2 separate regions of the Homo sapiens genome follow, and region 2 is linked to region 1. The links come from fine-mapping of genetic effects on gene expression. Tissue or cell type: whole blood. Region 1 holds a variant in brackets; the other region holds the start of a gene. All regions are shown on one strand. Distances are between the middles of the regions.

What was found. PIP is the estimated chance that this variant, and not a neighbour inherited with it, causes the effect.
Region 2: it holds the start of SAMD14, and the variant in region 1 is the best candidate, but not a certain one, in a credible set for the expression of SAMD14 in whole blood (INTERVAL, PIP 0.72).

The regions. Positions count from the first base shown.
Region 1 is chr17:50,159,220-50,161,719 of GRCh38, reverse strand. LOC124904025 (a long non-coding RNA gene) reads right to left here. Exons shown (of 3, transcript XR_007065841.1): 2 at 2,288-2,410; 3 at 1,363-1,998. It overlaps LOC105371818 (a long non-coding RNA gene), which reads left to right. Exons shown (of 4, transcript XR_934833.3): 3 at 572-699. Among named protein-coding and RNA genes, the nearest start is that of SGCA, 5.5 kb to the left of the region's middle. RefSeq lists silencers at 1-227, 258-337 and an enhancer at 1-232. The variant A/G (reference allele first, on the strand shown) is at 1,186.
Region 2 is chr17:50,128,779-50,131,278 of GRCh38, reverse strand. SAMD14 (sterile alpha motif domain containing 14) reads left to right here and starts at 1,119. Exons shown (of 10, transcript NM_001257359.2): 1 at 1,119-1,762. RefSeq lists silencers at 1,024-1,103, 1,344-1,403.

The DNA.
Region 1 (2,500 bases):
CCTGTCCCGTACGCCGCCTCCAGCGCAACAACAAAGACTGCGACCTGGCCAGTCCGCCACGAGAGGGCGCGTTCGCTGGCGCCAGCCCGGTCTTGCGCCTGCGCGATGTTGGGACGGAGCGGGAGTCGGGGGCGGGATGCCTGCGGAGCGCGCCGCCCCGGGCTGGGGATGCGCGTCAGCAGTGCGTGCTGGGGGACGCAGTTACAGGGGGCGACGCAGGAGGGAACCCAAGGCCACGAGCTCCATCTCGTCCTCCCCTTCCCGACCCAGAAAACGCTCTAATCTACAGGGGGAGGAGAAGCCGCACGGAGGCAGGGGGCTGGACATAATGATCTCTTCCCCATCCCACCTCCACCCATCCCACCATCTGTATCAAGCCTCCGACTTCCAAGGACATTTCCATATCCCCCCAGACATTTTGGGATACCAGCCTGGAGACCTAAATGTACCCAGAATCCCCCGCCTTTTTATCGGTGGATTTCAGCCCTCAAAGCGTTCCGTGAGCCTCTGACCGCCCAAATCCATCACACATGAGTTGGAATGCCAGGGACCATTCCCGGCCAAACGTTAGATTACAGGAGTAAGAGAGAAGAGGAGGGACTGTCCGAGGTGCCTCGGCACTATGGCTGCACAGCTGGATCTCTGGACACGGAGCCCTGGACCGTTTCCACCCAGACACTCCCATTCCATCAAGTGGGGGTAAGAAGGATCAATGAGATAATGGAAGCGAAAGCGCTTTGCAAACTGTAAAGCTCTGGAGAAAGTAAGGGTGTTTTATTTATTTATAACTGACAGTGCAAGGTAATAGCTGCCCAGGGCCAGCCCACAGGCACAGCCCAAGAGCTGGAAAAGGTCAGATTTAGAAGCCACCATTCACTGATAGAAGGATTAGGAAAATAAGACCAGGCACGGGGGCTCACACCTGTAATCCCAGCACTTTGGGAGGCCGAGGTGGGTAGATCACGAGATCAGGAGTTCCAGACCAGCCTGGCCAACATGGTGAAACCCCATCTCTACTAAAAATAATTAGCTGGGCGTCGTGGTGGGCACCTGTAATCCCAGCTAATCAGGAGGCTGAGGCAGGAGAATCTCTTGAACCCGGGAGGCAGAGGTTGCAGTGAGTTGAGATCACGCCATTGCACTCCAGCCTGGGTGACAGAGCGAGACTCCGTCTCAAAAAAAAAA[A/G]TTTAAAAAAGAAGGGTTAGGAAAATAAGAGGCAAAAGTCTCTGACATCTGTAGACAGCATGATTATTTATATGGAAAATCAAGAGATTCTACGGGCATATTATTAGAGTGATTAAGTGAAGTCATGCTGGACAAATGTCAACATCCAAATACAAAAAACCATATAAAATTCAGCAGTGTTTCTACGCACTAGCAATAGTTTATTAGAAATTGTAGTATCTTTCAAAAAGAAATCATTCACAATAAAATTAAAATTGTACAAAACCCAGAAAAAAATTACAAAACACATTGCAAGATATTTAGGAAGTAAAACATAGGCTACAATAGTAATAAATGGAGAGCCATAGAGAAGTATTAGGTTAAGTATGAGATGCCTCCATGTTATGAAGACGATTCTCTCCACGTTAATCTGTTGATTCATTGCAGGTCCAATAAATATTCCAACAGGATTTTTCACAGGGCTAGGCAAACTGATTCTAAAATTCATAGAGAAGAGCAAAGACCCAAGAAAAAAGTAGACAGTTCTGAAAAAGAATAAGGAAAGAGACCTGGCCCTAACAAATACCAAGACTTTTTTGAAAGCGATAGTAATTAAAACAATGTGGTATCGGTGCCGGGCTAGACAAAGGAATCAATAGAATAGAGTGCCCAGAAACAGATCCAAGTATATGTGGGAATGTGATTTATGATAGTGGCGGCACTGCAACTCAGTGAGAAAGAATAGACTTCAGTAAAATGTGTTGTGACAATTGGCTTTTCCTATGAAAAATCTTCACACCATCCATAAATATGAATTCCAGATGGATTAAAGACCTAAAAGTGAAAAACAAAACTTTAAAATAATTAGGAGAAAATGTAGGAGACCTAAGGGTAGGAAAGCATTTCTTAGACAAGAGACACACTCAAAAAAGATCAGCCGATTTTTATTACATTACCCCCCAAAAGCCCTCTGCTATGAAAATGATATTACAAAGAAAGTTAAGAGACAAGGAGCAGCCTAGGTGGCAATGGTGACAGCATACACAACAGATAAAGGGTTAGCATTCAGAATATACAGACCTCCTAGGAATCTACAAAATTAGCTGGGTGTGGTGGTGCGCACCTGTAATCCCAGCTACTTGGGAGGCTGAGGCAGGAGAATTGCTTGAACCTGGGAGGCAGATGTTGCGGTGAGCCAAGATTGCGCCATCCCACTCTAGCCTGGGCAACAAGAGCGAAACTCCATCTGAAAAAAAAAAAAAAAAACCTCCTAGGAATTAGGAATCAATATGGAAAAGACAGAACTTTTATTTTATTTTTATTTCTTCTTTTTTTT
Region 2 (2,500 bases), 30 kb after region 1:
TGCGCCTGGCCTTTCACCACTTGCTCTTGAGCAAAGCACTTTCCTTCTTCTAAGTCTCTGTTTTCTCTGAGGCAGTGGGTAATGGAAACACCCACCTTGTGGGTTTATTGTGAGGGTGACAATAGATGATCTGAGAGCGCCTGGCACCTGCCAAGCTGTGACGTGCGGTAGCTGGTTGTGGATCCCTACATTGCCTCCCTGGCTGGCCTGCCACTACCATCAGCGCACTGGGTCCAAGTCTGATCTCATCCGTCCCCACCCCCACCTGCTCCAGGGCTTCCTGCCTCAAGCCAAGGTCCACAGCCATCCTAGACCCCTCCTCCCTCACCTCCTAGTCCAGCAGGTCCCCAAATCCTGTCAGCTTCTTCGGTGTCAGCTTCTTCAGGCCTGCATCCTGAAGGGCTCTCAGCTTAATCTGTAATCTTTATGCCCACTGCCACCGGCCCTCAATAGCCTCCAGCGGGTCTCCCTGCCTTCAGAGTGCCCTCTGTAACCCTGTCTCCAGGGGAGCCAAGGGTGCTTCCTAAATGCACACCTGAGCCCCTCCCTCCTCTTAATTTTGTGTGTGTGCGCGCGCGCGCGTGTGTGTGTGTGTGTGTGTGTGTGTGTGGGCGGCGGGGTGGGCGGCTGGTAGAATAAAGTGCAAGCCCCCTGCACCTCCCCAGCTTCAATTTATCTTCCCCTCTTGCCCTCCCACCCCCAACACCCCCTGGCACTTCCCTACCCTGGCCCGCAGTTGTAGCCAACACATCACATCCTCTGGGAATCCCCCAGCCCAGCTCCCGCCGCGGCCGCCTGGACCCAGGCCGGGCCAGGGGTGCGCTCTCCCTTCCGGCAAGAAGTGCCCTCTGTTAGCTGGGCCCATGGCGCCCAGGCTCGTGAGGGCCTCCCCACTCGTCTGAGCCCCCGACTGGCCCACTGGCCTTGAGCGCAGTTAGGGGGCGGGGGTTCTGTTCACCGCTGTCCCCTCCAGCCTCGGCGCCCCGGCTGCTCGGCGGACGTTTGTTGAATGAATGAACTAATCGGGAGCCCTGATGGACCCGGCAGAGGAGGCGGAAGCCCCGTGGGTCCCGTGGCGGGACCGCCCCGGAGCCGCTCCCACCCGCGCAGACTCCGGTGCGCCGCGTCTCCCGCGGGCAGAGAAGTAGCTGCAACTCCGCTCCCCGGCCCCAGCCGCCTCCTCCCCGCCGCCCTCCCCCGCCCCCGCCCCCTCGCTCCCTCCCGCTCTTTGTCTCCTGGGCGCCCGGCTTCTCCGCCACGCGCCCCCCACCCCGACGCCCCTTCCCCGGAGACCCCCGCGGACCCCTGCCGACGCGACGCCGCGCGAATCGGCCCTGCCAGGCGGGGGCCCCGCGTCCGGCCAGGCCTGGCGGGCGGCAGGGGCGGGGAGGGAGGTGGCGCTCGCTCTTCGCTCTTCTCTCTCTCTCTCTCTCTGTCACACACACACACACGCACACGCACACGCACACACACACGGAGCATCCTCCCGTCAGGTCTCCTGGTCCAGCCCCGCCCGCGCCTCCTGCTTCCAGCGAACCTGTTCCCTCTCCCCACATCCCCCGCCCTCCATCTCCCCCGGCTCTGGGACCCTTCCCGCCGACCTCACCCCCACCCCCGGGATGGAGCGGCTCGAGCCCGCCCGGAGCCCCCCGCGGCCGGGGTGACGGTCCCCCCACCCCTCTCCTGCCCGGCCCCCGCCTCGAGCACCATGGGCCTGAGGGGTTCCCGGGGCGCCAGACGCTGAAGATGACCGATGCCGGAGGTGAGGGGCCGGGCGCCCTGGGGTGGACCGGGAACTGGGGCTAGGGCCACTCGGGCCCGCGGTGGGACCCTGAGTGGGGTTGGGCAGGGCTAAGCGACAAGGGCCTTTCTTCCCCTATCCCTAGGGGGACCGCACGGGGCTGGGGTGCCGGGCTGTCAGGGGAGGGGGCGGAGATAGGATTTATGGCCCTAATCCCCTCCCTCCCGCCCGACGCCCGGAGAAATTAATAAAAAGCTGGTGTGGGGGGAGGGGGAGAGGGCTTAACTCTTTCTTGCCCGGCGGGGAGTTGTGCTGATGGTTTGGAGAGAAACTAGCCACCGGGCTCTGACTGGGGAGAAGGGCTCTGAGAGTGGAGTAGGTGCCCTGTCCCCAACCTCACCCCATCTCCAACAGTGCTTTGAGGGGGTGCCCGACTCCTGAGGACTACCCCAAGCCTGGGGCCAGTGGACGGCCGGCGATATGGGAAGGGGGGACCACCTCTCTGGCTCCACAACTGCCTCCCCGACCGCTAGTCTCCTTTCCCATCCACCTCTTCCCGGCCTCTCCCAGTTGCACTTCTCTCTGTCGCTTTCTCCTCTTCAGGGGCCCTTTCCTATCGCCTGCCCGAAGGGCTTCTCCCTTCTCTCCCACCCTCGGGCGTCACTTAGAGCGGCGGAAGCCCTTGTTCCCAGTGCCAGTTCCCGTGGCCCCACTCTCGGTGTGATCTCTTTCTTCTCAGCAGCCCTGTGGACTCTCCGC